Homo sapiens: one gene and its partner. The protein of the gene in region 2 interacts with the protein of the main gene of each other region in a pairwise test. Each region holds a gene or a part of one and is shown on either strand. Other genes may lie near its edges.

The links. The genes of interacting proteins can lie anywhere in the genome.
Region 1: the proteins of ERG28 (region 2) and SCN3B interact in binary tests that used the Homo sapiens proteins (3 or more experiments, as listed by UniProt).

The regions. Positions count from the first base shown.
Region 1 is NC_000011.10:123,630,611-123,637,645, forward strand, and holds part of SCN3B (sodium channel regulatory subunit beta-3 precursor), read right to left. Parts: intron 3,597-7,035; coding exon 3,533-3,596; 3' UTR 3,511-3,532; intron 3,167-3,510; 3' UTR 1-3,166. UniProt on the Homo sapiens protein: Regulatory subunit of multiple voltage-gated sodium (Nav) channels directly mediating the depolarization of excitable membranes.
Region 2 is NC_000014.9:75,657,850-75,665,357, forward strand, and holds the start of ERG28 (ergosterol biosynthetic protein 28 homolog), read right to left. Parts: upstream 3,028-7,508; 5' UTR 2,926-3,027; intron 1-2,925. Other genes in the region: tubulin polyglutamylase TTLL5, read left to right, coding at 5,301-5,374.

The DNA.
Region 1 (7,035 bases), on a different chromosome or scaffold from region 2:
GATCACAGTACCTTATTGATTTACAGTCATTATCAAATCTCCCAGGAAGGAGTTTAATTGCAATTCAGGAGAAATAATGATGTACAAACCAACTAGAAAGAGAACCAAAATAGGACTGACTCTCAAAGCACATTGCTAGCATCCACCAAAAAGCAAAGTGGTAGAGAAGCAGTGAGTGGGATTAGGGGTGAGAGAAGATGGAGAACATTAGGACAGGCAAGATAGGCAATGGTTAGATGGAAGCTAAAAAATAAGAAAAGGAAGCAGCTATGGTCTAAGTGGAAAGAGAACTGAAAGAGGAGTCAGAAGACCTGGATTCTTGCTGTCTACCTACCAGCTAGGTTTCCTTATAATTTAGTAAAGCTACTTAACCTCAGAGACCCTCAGTTTCTTCTTTTGTAATGTGACCTCACAGGACCAGTTATAGAGAAGAAATAAAATAGTTAAGTGAAAATACTTCGTAAACCATATAGTTCTAATGAAAGTGTCAAGAATGAGAAGAATGGAGAAGTTAGAAAAAGGAAGAGTGGGGAAGATAACCTGTCAAGGATAAATAAGTGATAGATACCATTCAGCTTCATTAAAAGCCACGCAAGCAGCATCTGAGTTGGGTTTTTTTAAAAAGAAGAGAAAAAGGCAATCATGCATACTGCCGGGTTCAACTTAGATACACGAGCTATTGGGCCACCGAGGAAAACGGTGTGGTAGTAAGCATCTTGCTACTACCGCAAGCTGGTGGCATCCATGAGCTATGGGACTGGAAAAATTTCACACTGAGGCCAATTTTTCTAACTATAAAGTTAAAAAGGTCTATATCCTCTCCCTTATTTCAGAGGGATTGTGTGGAAAATTACCAATAAGAAGAGTCTTGAATTTATTGCAAATATTTTCTTCAACAAAATCAGACTCTTTAATGTGTTAACGGTCTGGTTTTGGGCCAGGCACAGTTGCTCAGGCCTGTAATCCCAGCACTTTGAGAGGCTGAGGCTGGCAGATTGCTTGAGCCCAGGAGTTCAAGATCAGCCTGGGCGACATGGCAAGACCCCTGTCTCTACATAAAATACAAAAATTAGCCAGGCATGGTGGTGCATGCCTGTAGTCCCAGTTACCTGGGGGCTGAGGTGGGAGGATTGCTTAAACCTGGGGCAGTTGAGGCTGCAGTGAGCTGAGATTGCACCACTGCACTCTAGCCTGGGAGACAGAGTGAGAATCTGTCTCAAAAAAATAATAATAAATAAATAAAAATTTAAAAGTCTGGTTTTAAGTACTTTCCTAGGGATGGAAGAATGAAAAAAATGAGCTTTTAAGGTAAAGCCCTAAACCTATGGAATATGGTCTTTCCCTATAAAGGGAGGTCCCAGGTCTGAGGGACCTCTCTCTCGCTGAATCCCAGTCACCTTCATCTTCTTACATTCCATAAAGCATCTTTCCCCTCTCTTGTCCCTGGGTGCTGAAGGATGTCACACTTGGACCTGTCACTTAATTAAAATGAAACACGAGATATTGACTAAAGTTTTTTCCAGTTTCTCTGCTCCCTCAAAATCTAGGGGAAAAAAATCTGAAAATTATGCATTCATAGGCGAAGTATTTGGAAAGCACCTACCCATCCCTCCCCTCTCACACTGCTCATTTACTTATGATCCATCTCAGACTAAACATTTTTCTTAGTTTAAATATCAGTCTCAGATGCACTCTCCTTTTGGAGGATATTTCAGAGTCACAGATCTTTACATAAAGGAAGTTCTTTAAGTCTACCTCATGTTCTTCTCCCTGCTTTTTTGGCCAATTTCTAGTCATCTGAATCTATCAGAGTTGACCTCAGCCCAGTCCGTGCTTGTGAAAGAAGCATTGCCATAGACAAGTTCAATGTCAGTCTTTTCAGAAACAAAGTTATCCACCGGGCGCAGTGCCTCACGCCTGTAATCTCAGCACTTTGGGAGGCTGAGGTGGGTGGGTCATTTGAGGTCAGGAGTTCAAGACTAGCCTGGCCAACATAGTCAAACCCTGTCTGTACTAAAAATACAAAATTTAGCCAGGCGTGGTGGTGCACACCTGTAATCCCAGCTACTGGAGAGGCCGAGGCATGAGAATTGCTTGAACCCAAGAGGCAGAGGTTGCAGTGAGCCGAGATCACACCACTGCACTCTAGCCTAGGTGACAGAGTGAGACTCCATCTCAAACAAAAAAAACAAAAAACAAAACAAACAAAAACATCCATCCCAGGAAGTGTAAACTGGGCAGCACCTAAGGCTTATTTCTGCTCCAGTTTATCCTCTTAAGCCTCTTATTCAGTTGAGCCCTGTATGAGTCTTAGTTGCCTCCTGTATGTAAAATGAGGAATAATACTGGTGCACAGAAATTTTGAGAGGAAGAACTCAGGAATTTCAGTCCTAATGCCCAGGTGGTGTGCCCACAGGGAGGGCACACATACATTATCGCAATAGGATCAGGAACGTGTCCAGAAACATGTTGCATGACTTTTTAAGAGCCACTTAAATTACCATTGGTCCTTCCCAAGTCTCCTGTCCTTGTCTTCTTGGAGGGAACCTTAGAGACCCATCAGGATCTAGCTCTGGAGTACTAAGCTCCAGAGAGCATGTTAGTCCATGCTTCAGGATCTTTCTGTCACTGGAGAACCTAGACAGGCGTGCTTCACTCTGATGCTGTAGCAAAGTGGGCCATGAACCTGACAAAACTGACTTCAGGGAATCCAAGTTCATGACACACTTTTGCTTTAACCCGAACTAATCACTCCTGCTTCCTTCTATTAAGACTTCCATTCTCTTGCAGTAATGGAGAATGAACCAGTTCCAGCCAGTTAAGGGCAGAGGGAGGTGCTAACTCCAGCACTTGTACAAAGTCATTTGGAGCACAGGGGAGAAATCCAGTTGGCTTTGGAGTGTCTTGTTGGAAAACTAGGAGAGGGTGAGGTTGAGTCTATGTAGAAATGTTGGCTTCTCAGTTCTGGCAGAGTCTTATGGTGCGTAGAGGTCTGATGGAGTTAGGGAGTCAGAGGTGAAAGCTCAGAGGCAGGTGGATGTATGGATGAATGAATGAACAGAACAATGGATGCATGAAGGGAAGCGATGGGGCCCTTGGGGCGCCCTCCTGATGCCATTGACATTGCTGAACATGGGATGTCCAGTCCCTCAGGTGTTCAGGCCACCTACCAAAGATAAAATAACTCACTGAGAATTTCCCACCCAGTCCAGCCCAGCCCAGCCCAAAAATTCTTTGACCAAAGAAGGGAGTTGGAGAATCCTGTGCCTCTGTTACCATGGGCAAGTTCAGATTGCCTCGACACTCAGGTCAAAGCAGTTCACCTTCCGAAGCGCTGACATCATACAGAGCTTTCTGACTTAAAGAATTACCCTGAGGGCGGGGACCCCAGGCAGGGTAGACAGTGACCTAAGGGACCAAATTTAAAGTCACTTCAGTTGTGGGCAACAAAGTCACTTGTACAACCTGCCATCCACATCTGCCTTCCCCTCCCATGTTCCTGTAGGTCACCTCATGTCACACTGCTCCTGTTCTATTCCTCCACTGGTACCGCAGAGTTCTCCTTGTTCTCAGATGGGATGGCAAGGTAGTCAGACCTATAGAGGACACAGGGAAAGGGAATCAGAGCTTCAGTGCCCAGCGTGGGAACACAAGATGGGGAAGGAGCAGGGCACAGGAGCAAGGATCTACAGAACAGCTCTGCATTTCCTTCTGCTGTGTTTCTCAAGAGAAAAACAACCTTTTCTGCAGATTAAAATAATCATTTCCCCCATATATGTACACGAACACCCACCAGGAGTGTATAGCTTCTCATTTATCCAGGTTGTCTTCAGCATTTAGTTAGATTATTATGTTGGCCAAGGCTCATGCCTCTAATCCCAGCACTTTGGGAGGCCAAGGCAGGAAAATTGCTTGAGCCCAGGAGTTCAAGACCAGCCTGGGCAACATGGTGAAACCCTGTCTCTACAAAAAATACAAAAAACTAGCCTGGCATGGTGGCACGTGCCTGTAGTCCCAGCTACTTGGGAGGCTGAGGTGGGAGGATCACCTGAGCCTGGGAGGTCGAGGCCATGATTGCACCACTGCACTCCAGCCTGGCAACAGTGAGACCATGTCTCAAAAATAAAATAAAATGTTGGTCAAAATGACAGCTGTGAAATTATATTTTATAGTTGTTTCACATGTTTACAGGCTATTTGGGTTTCTGCTTCTGAAATTTGTTCATCTGCTTTCCAGTTCTTCTGAGATCTTTGTCTTTTTCTCATTGATTTTCCTTTGATGCTTTCATGTTTTGACAATTTCTCCCAATCTCTTGTTTGTCTAGGAATTTTGCTTATGGAGTCTTCTAATGAACAGCTGATTCTTTACATATAATGTGATCAAAATTATTTTTCCTCTTGGATTTGTGCCTTTTGTATTTTATTTGGGAAATCCTCTCTATTGCATGGTGATAAAGAGAGTCTCTTATATTCCCTTAATGGAATTTTCAAGTTTGACATTTTACTTTGTGTTTAAATCCCCTCATAATTTATTTTGGTTTAGTATGAGAGATGGGGAATCTAATTTTGTTTTGTGTTTTTCTTTGTTTCTATATAGATTAGGAATTTTCCCTAGACCACTTACTGGGCAGTTCATTCTTCCTTCAATCACTGTAACGTCATCTCTCTCACATATCAGGTTTTCCTACATGCATTAACCTGATTGGTGGCTTTTTGTTTTGTTTGTCCATTTCGTATGCCTGTGCAGTATCACAAACTCTGTATTCTGATAGCTCTGTAAGAAACCTTCATCTGGCTGGGCGCAGTGGCTCACACCTGTAATCCCAGCACTTTGAGAGGCCAAGGCGGGTGCATCACGAGGTCAGGAGATTGAGACCATCCTGGCTAACATGGTGAAATCCCGTCTCTACTAAAAAAATACAAAAAATTAGCCAGGCGTGGTGGCAGGTGCCTGTAGTCCCAGCTACTCGGGAGGCTGAGGCAGGAGAATGGCGTGAACCTGGGAGGCAGAGCTTGGAGTGAGCCGAGATCGCGCCACTGCACTCCAGCCTGGGCAACAGAGCGAGACTCTGTCTCAAAAAAAAAAAAAGAAAACAAAGGAAACCTTCATCTCCGATAAGACAAATCCTACCAACCTCTTGCAAATTTACTGCTCTTTCTTTGAAATGGTTTAGACCGAGGGTGGGCAAACTGTGGCCTAAGAGCTAAGGATGGTTGTTTGCAAACAAATAGAAGAACAATACATGACAGGGACCTATGGCGCCTGCAAAGCCTAAAACACTTATTATCTGGCTGTCCCTTGGTTAAGACTATTTTTGGCTACTTAGCCTTCCATGTGACTTAATATCAGCTTATTAAGTTCTTTGAGAAATCTAATGGGCATTTTGATTGGGATTTCATTGAATTTGAAGATCAATTTGGGAGAAAATTGTTTACAATTGTGAGGTTTTACTCTCCATCTAGTTACGTTTAAAGTCTTTCAGTAAAGGTTTCTAACTTTTTCTTTAAATGTCTTGTATATTTTTGTCAAATTTATCCCCGGAACTGGGGAGTACTTCTTGCTATTGTAACTTTAAAAGCATTTTAATATTTTAAATATTTAAATTTGTTACTAAATTTGTTGCTGGAATATAGGTGATTTTTATATTTTGATTTCTATCAACAATTTTGTGGAATATTCTTCCTTGTCCTAATAGTATTTTTGTAGATTCTCTTAGGTATCCTATGTAAATAGTAGGTATAGATAATGATAATTTAGTTTCTTCCTTTCCAAGTCTTTTTCTTCCTTGTATTTACTTGGTCTTCACCTAGGATTTCCAACACAATATTGATAGAAACAGGGAGAGGCAGTCTCCTTGATATGTCCCTGATATTACAGGCACTTGAGGTTTCAACACATAGATGATATTTGCTGTAGGGTCTCTTAGTAGCTGCCATTTATCACTTTAAAGATGCTTGGTGTTTAGGTGTAGATGTATTTTATTCATCCTGCTCAGGGCATATTATGCTTCTTGAATCTGAAGAGTCATCCCTCCCTCAGCCGTTCTGTCTCTGAACACTGTCTCTCCTCCATTCTCTGTTCTATTCTGTTTTTTTTTTTTTGAGATGGAGTCTCGCTCTGTCGCCGAGGCTGGAGGGCAGTGCCGTGATCTCGGCTCACTGCAAGCTCCGCCTCCCAGGTTCACGCCATTCTCCTGCCTCAGCCTCCTGAGTAGCTGGGACTACAGGCACCCGCCACCATGCCCGGCTAATTTTTTGTAGTTTTAGTAGAGACAGGGTTTCACCATGTTAACCAGGATGTCTCGATCTCCTGACCTCATGATCTGCCTGCCTCGACCTCCCAAAGTGCTGGGATTACAGACGAGAGCCACCGCGCCCGGCCAAAATGATGCTTTCTTTATCAAACATTTCTAACTGGTAATAGCCTAGACTGTTTTCGGTTTGCCTCAGCAATGTTGCTAGAAATCTGTGGGTTTTTTCTATCTTTCCTTTCCCCAGACAACCAGCCAGCATGATCTCTTAAGACTCTTTGTTCTTACAGACCCCACCGTTTCTCAAATGTGCTCACCCTCAAGTGACTAGAGTCTCTGAGCAAATGGCTAAGGTACAGGCTGGACTTTAGAGGATTAGAGTCCCCACTCTGGACATCTAAGCGCTGCCAGGCTCTAGGGGAAATAACATGTTGCTTGGAGCTCCTTTGCTAGCAAAGGGCAGTGCCCAGATGGCCTGAGGAGCTCCATGGTATAAAGCAAACAGTTCAATGAGATAGAAAGAGCATGGACATTAGCACTAGAGAGACCTGGGTTCAAATCTCAGCCTTTCCTCTTACCATCTGTGTGCCTTGGTAAGCTGCTATGAGTCGGCTTGGCATTTACAGAACGGTTATAATAATGTTACTTTTTTGTTGTGTTTTTGGGCTTTTATTGTTGTTGTTTTTGAAATGGAGTCTCGCTCTGTCACCCAAGCTGGAGAGCAGTGGCACGATCTCAGCTCACTGCAACCTCCGCCTCCCAGGTTCAAGGGATTCTCCTGCCTC
Region 2 (7,508 bases):
CACCTGCCTGGCTATTGATGACGGATTCTTCCAAGTGTATGGAACTTTATAAATTTGAGTAGGACTTATGGTGTGAGGTCACTATTTACATCCCTAGGTTTTCTGGACTCTGGTTCTCAGGTATACCATGCTCCATAAACTAGAAGAACAATCTAAAAGTTAAAAATAAACTGCTGTGTGTCAACTCCAAATAAAATCCTAAGCCCATCACGGACTGAACAGAGCCCCTCTTGGCCTAGGGGACCCCAGAAAAATCCTAAAACTGAGCTCCTGGCCATGACAAGATGGGAGGTCTGACATGCCCTGTTATATTCGTTGTGTTTTCAGGTTTAGAGACAGCAACTTACCAGCATTAAAGTTAAAATAGAGATCATAAGAATGACACAACAGATTCTTTGTGCAATAAGATACCAAATTATAAACAAGACCTAAGGCCATGCCAGGCAAGGGTTAAGTTACACACTCCTACATTTAAAGAATAAAAGTTATATTCTGCCACAAGGTTTTTTTTTTCTCCAGCAGCTAGATGAACACTGGCCTTGAGATAAGCAATATTAAAACAATTGCAGCTCATCCAGCTCACAGAGGCTGACTACCTGACCCCTGTTCCACCAGTTGTAACTACAGCTTTGATTGGACAAGAGACTGATTTCAGTAATTTTCTCCAGATAAGACCACCAACCGTGGACTGCTCCTGGCCAGTTTAGCAGGATCACACACTTGAGTGTCTTGGTGTCCTGAAAAGACTTTTTGACGTATAGAGCCTAGGTGTGATAGACTTAAATGTTAGGTCTCCACTCCAAAGTGAACAGGGTTCATATGTGGTTACATATGTTTGTTCAATATGCATGTGTCAGGACAACCTTCAGGAATATTCACAGCTCCTCCTGTAACCTGTCGAATGTGTATGTTTAGCAAACCTGTTCAGCATGAAGCTCTACCCCAAACCCTTCTCCTTCAAAGTAACTGTCTCTGGTCTTGGTGGGAGGCACTCTTCCCTGTTGGGTGGCTGTAACCCTTTGCAAGAGATAAAGCCTCTTTTCCTTTTTTCCAAATTTATAAATTGTGTGTGTTTAAGTTAACGTGTGAGTTTAGGACTAGTAAGAAAATTATATAGCGAAGGAAACAGCAATCTTGGTGTTGGGTTGCAAGAAAATAATAGGTTTCAGTCATTGAGCACTTACACCGTGAACTGTGCCAAGCACCTAACATATATTACCATTTAATCTTTACAATGAGGTAAGCAGGCACTATTAATATTTCCATCTTACAGATGAGGGTTGGAACAGAGAGGTTAAACAAGTTTCTTAAGGTCACACAGCAAAGTTGGCAGAGCTGAGATAAGAATCATGGTCTGCTGGACTGCTGCAGTGCTACCTCATTGTTTGAGACTATTTTAATGAAGTTCCCATTTTTTGAGAAAGAAAAGCATACCATATCCACTTTTGTCTTCAAGTTGTATGGAAAATACAATTAGATTACATACTTTTTGTTTTTTAATTTATTATTTATTTATTTATTTTTTTGAGACAGGGTCTTGCTCTGTCACACAGGCTGGAATGCAGTGGCATAGTCATGGCTCATTGCAGCCTTGAAATCAAAGGCTTAAGTGATCCTCCTACCTCAACCTCTCCACTTGGGCTCAACTGATCCACTCACCTTGGCCTCGCCTCCCAAATGCTGGGATTACAGGTGTGAGCTACAGCACCCAGCCTTTTTTTTTTTTTTTTTAAGGCTTAGTTCAACTCTTGTTGAGTAGTAATTTCAGTTAGTCTGATTTAAATAAAACCAAAATAGATAAATAATCTAATAATGGAATGACTTTTTCCCATCCTCATTATTATTTTCTTGGTCCACGGTTTATCTGTTGTCAGGTTAACCTCTTGGGCCTGAAGTGGTAATAAACTAACAGGCTTTCTTTGTCACTTTGGCAATACAAGTTTCGGTATTGTTCTCTGCTACCCAGTGGGACAGATATTAAAGTCAGCAATGGCCCAAGACAGTGTGAAACACCGCCGCCCCCCCCCGCCAACTCCCCGCCCCAAACAAGCAATAAAGAGATCTAGAGAAGGAAGGGTGAATTGATGAGCCCTTCAGGGAGAGCTGGATCACAAAGGTGGTCTCTGTCGAAGATCAGAGAGACTGAGGGTCTACTGGACATCACAGGCCATTATCATTTGGGCCAAGATCCACCCATCCTCTTTATTTTCTCACTCTCTCTCAAGAGGAGACTCCTCCGGGGTTTAGAAAAGCTGCATGGATGCACCTCTCCACTTTTCTGCACAAGTATGCCTTCCATTTCACAGAAGTGTTATCTGTTAGAAATCCCAACAGATAGCTGATGAGGACAGAGCCTGAGCACTTCTGAATTGCTCTGCCAATTTCTCAACCTAATTTCCCTAAAGCTTAAGGGCCTCTTAGAGTGTATACAACATCTATTTCCAAATTTTGTCCTGGCCCTGGCCCAGCCCAGCCAAGCCCAGCCCAGCATAGGTGTGCTGTTAAAACTTAATCAGGAGAAAGGGATTCTTATCCTGGCCCTACCACTTAGTAGCTGTGTGACCCTGGGTAAGTCATTTACACTTTTCAGTCTCGGTTTCCTCATCTGCAAAATGGAGATAGAAATATCAACCCGAAGGGCTATTGTAAGAATTATATGACAAAAAGTGAAGGCTCTTTGTACAGTGCTAGGCTCATAGTGGCTGCTCATTCGCTCATCCATTCCTTCGTTCCTTGAATTCACCAAGCCTTCTCCATCTTCCTAGCTCCCCCTTGTCATCGCCTCTCGAAACCTTTTCCCCCCAAAAGGTTGCCTTCCAGTTATCTTCCTTCCATCCCACCTCCATTTTTCCAGACTCTCCGGATCCTCTCAATCAGAAGCAACACAGACACCTACATCCCTCTTCTCCCCCATATTCTCCTTACCTGGCGACCGGGCCCCCAGCACAGCAGTGGCAGCAGCAGCCGCTGCCGCAAACAAGCTCCCCCAGGACAGCTCCAGCCCGGAGTCCACCTGAGCCATTTGTCCCCGCCCCCTCCCTCAGCCCTGCTCCAGGATTGGGCCGTTTCCGTCAGTACTCTCTCTGATTGGCTGTCCCGGTTTCGCCCGAGCAGGAGATGGGGAGTGAACCCCTTTACTGCCAATCAGCGGTTGCCGCTGCCTAAGCCTCTCCCCAGGTACGCCGCTCACGCCGTAAGCCCTCCTGTTGGACCTAGCGGAACTCCGGGTTTGGAGTCAACCTCTTAGGGGCGGAGAAAAAAACAGCGGAAAAAAAAAAAAAAAAGAAGACTCCCTTCAGCTGAGGGCAGGGCTCTGCGCCCGCGCTGCGCGGCGGTGACGACATTCGCCCGCGTCCGCAGCTGAGCGTTATGAGCGCCTGCGCAGTGGCTCCGAGCGGGCGGTTGCTTGTTGGTTGTTGTAGTAACCGGGGAAGCAGCCGTCGGCGGCTGCCCTGAGCCTTCCTGGGGAAGGAGGAGGGAGGTAGGCGCAGAGCGCGGTCCACGCCTGCTCGCCCCGAACCATGGGAAGATGAGACAGGTAAACGCCTGCGCCCGCGCGCTTCCCTACCCTAGGGAGGAGCATTCCCGGGTCCGGGCTGGCGCCTGCAGCAGGACTTCCCGCTCAGAGCCCGGGAGTAGCTGTTGGCTTCCGGGCGCGCCGCGTTGAATCGCGGCTGCGGGGTCGTCCCGTCCTTCCCGGGGGGAGCATCTGCGGACCTACGTGGGATTGGGGTGAGCTGGGGGTGGGGCTGAGAAGCAGATTCCTTTCGGGAGAGGAGTCTCCTTAGGTGAGTATCTCTACTCTTCTTCCGATAGACCTGTTTCTCCCCGCTCTGCAGGCAGCCTAGGAGAGGTTGGCATCCCTTCCCGTTTGGAGGTTTTGTTTGTTTAAACTTAAAGGGCTTCCCAGCATTTTGGGAAAGATCAAGAAATCCCGTTGAGAATCCCCTGAAGAAAGCCATTGAAGTTGTTAGACATTGCCTATTGCGCCGAAGATCTTTGATCATTATCGGGGTCTGTTTTTTTTTTGTCTTATTTACAGTCTCATCGTATTTATGAATGCATGGAAAAGTTAAGAAGGATTGACAGCAAGTAATTATCGCTGAGTAATTTGGGATTATGGTCATTTAAACATGTTTCTTTTATTTGTAGTTCCTATTTCTTCTTCTGACACACACAACGAACATGTACTTTTTTACTTTAGAAAAAATATTTTAAGTTAGAAATGCAGTGTTGGAAATTTCCTAATTTCATCGTCTATTTGAGAGTCGTACCAAACTTTGTGATTTTTAGGAAGAATAATTTTTAAGAGTGGAAGGGCATTCCTCCCCTCCCCCACCTATTTATATGGACCTTTGATTCAAGAGAATATATTCATCTTTCGGTTCATTGTTGAATTTATTTTACTGGAAACATGATGGCATCTTGTCAGCGTGCTTGTCATAGAGTCTAAATAAATGTTGGCAGGGGTTTTTTGTTGTTTTTTTTTTTTTGAGACGGAGTTCACTCTTGTTGCCCAGGCTGGAGTGCAATGGCGCGATCTTGGCTCACCGCAACCTCCGCCTCCCGGGTTCAAGCGATTCTCCTCCCTCAGCCTCCCGAGTAGCTGGGATTACAGGCATGAGCCAGCACACCCGGCTAATTTTTTGTATTTTTTTTTTTTTTTTTTAGTAAAGACGGGGTTTCTCCATGTTAGTCAGGCTGGTCTCGAACTCCCGACCTCAGGTGATCCGCCCGCCTTGGCCTCCCAAAGTACTGGGATTACAGGCGTGAGCCACCCTGCCCGGCCTGCAAGGGTCTTAAACCTTGAGTTTTTATTTATTTATTTTTAACCCAGGCCAGGTTTGTCTAGCAAGGAATATATGTTTTAGGGAATCAGTCACCTGCCTCAAACTGAGTGAAAGTGAGGAGTCTATCCTTTTGGTGCATATTCGATTTAGTAAATAATGAGAAACTCAAACTTAGTAACAGCTCTTCAAATATATAGAGCACAGACTGTATGTTTGAAAAAAATCTTGATTTTTGTGGCATATTGAGGCACATATTGAGGCACATTCCATATGTTATGGAAAGTAAACTTCTAGAGGTTGAGCACTGTTTAGGAATATAGTCATTTTCATTACTTAGATTATCAGCAATAACCAATAAATAGACAACTGCATTGTGTTTCAGGTCAATTGATCCAATCAAGTTGATTTCTTGCAGGAATCTGTGCCATCCAAATTGCTTGATCCAGTGAATCTGCTAGGAAAGGTCTCTGAGGCCCCCGTCTGCTGACTGCATGACAAACCCTAAAGGAAATGCCAATCGTGATGGCCCGGGACCTGGAGGAAACAGCATCATCCTCAGAGGATGAGGAGGTCATAAGTCAAGAGTAAGTAATAGCAAGCCTGCTTTCAACCTGTGCTTTGTACTCTTTCACTTATATACTCTTATATACTGTTTTACTATATACTCTTCTCTTTTACTTATGTACTCTTTTATCTAGTGTCATTCCTTGGGGATTATCTAACTCTGGTTTTAGCTTCTATCCATAATGTCATTTAAGGTCTTGTTACTCAGTCCCTATCAGCTATGAGAAATGAGATAAGGCTCTCTTTCTGGGCCCATAAGTGAACATCAGCTCTAGATGTTGTAAAATGCAAGTAGTAGCTCTTGGTGAACTCTTGCTCAGAACTCCCAACAGAAGATTTTGAAATGTTTAAGTATTGAAGAAAAGCATGTCCAAACTCTACAACATTAGTTACGTTTGCTAATTTTCTCAAAAGCCTTTACAATGATAAAATGGTGGTAATATAGAGAGGTCAGGTAACTTACCATAGTAACTCTGAGGCAGGATATTAGAGTTCTATAGCCTGTGTTGTGTCCATTGACCCACACTGCTTTCCTGAGTTCTTTTAGTTAAGAGTCCAATTTCATGATTACTGGATCATCACAATAAGAATGAATAATAGCTAGGTGTGTTGGCTTATGCCTGTAATCCCAGCACTTTGGGTAGCCGAGGTGAGCGGATCACCTGAGGTCAGGAGTTCAAGACCAGCCTGGCCAACATGGTGAAACCCCATCTCTACTAAAAAAACAGAAATTAGCTGGGCGTGATGGTGGGTATCTGTAATCTCAGCTACTCGGGAGGCTGAGACAGGAGAATGGCTTGAACCTGGGAGGTGGAGGTTGCAGTGAGCTGAGATCTCACCATTGCACTCCAGCCCGGGCAACAAGAGCAAACCTCCATCTCAAAAAAAAAAAAAAGAATGATAATGATAAATATAGCTACTACAGATGACGATAAAGGCTTTATCTCATCTATATCTTATATCTTTTTAAATCTGAAGGTGTTATTATTTTCACTTTTTTAAACTCAGTCTTATCAGGAAATTTCCTCAGTGACCCATAGAGAGTAAGTGATGCATTGAGATTTGGACTTAGCTTTTCTGGATTTTGATCACTTTGCTCTTTTGCCTCCTTTAATTATTGCTTGACACAGAGTAAAGAGAGAATCTGGTTTAAAGGTAAAATTCATTTTTAAGATTCTCCCTGAGTCCTTTTGGATATGTGTGTGCTATGTAACCTGAAAAATAGAGATAATATCTCCCAGGCTATTTTGTAGGGGTCTGGTTAGACTCAAATAGCATAATGTATGTGAAATTACTTTGTAAGTGCTATACAAATGTAAGGCATTATTTTTACTGGTTTTAATATTGAATTTATGGTGGGCTTCTTGTAAGATACAAGATTACTTGTAATTTGAAAAAAATTGTTGAAGCATTAAGAAAGCTTTGAGGAAACGTTTCTTATCACTGTTAGGTCATAGAAACTAATAGAGATTTGAAAGTATATTTGGGTCATTCTTGTTCAGGATAATTAAATGGATAATTCCCTCTGGTTACTTTCCCTTCTTCTGACTTTTTGCTTTCGGTGTGCTGCCTCTTACCCATTTCATAAAACTTTTAACTTCTGCTGCAAGTATCAGTCTTTCCCTTTTTAAAGGTTGTTCTTTTACTCCATTACTGTCTCTCTTATTAGTGGGTTTACAGATTGGGCCTGACAAATGTTAGATTGAACTATATGAAACTGCCATTTTGGTAGGTCAGAAACAGTCAAATACTGACGATTGCAGATAGTTTGACCTAATATTATAGTAGGTACTTAGTAAATTCTTGCTGACTGAATAACGAAATGAAGGAATAAATGAAGGCTTTATACTTTACATTACCTTAGATCAGAGTTGTTAACTTTTTTATGCCATGGATTCCTTACCAGAATAATGTTTTTAAGGCTTAAAATAAAATACATATTATTACAAAGAGTACTAATTACATTCAAATGCAGTTATTAAAACACATTTGTAACATAGTAATATGTGCTGTTTTACTAATACATTAAATAATAAGATCATTTCAAATCTGGGAAAGTTAAATTTTGTTTTCTAAAGACAACAACATGAAGACTGTTTTTGTTTAGTTTGTGTAAGATCAGTACACTGGGAGGGTGGCCTTTGATTAACAATC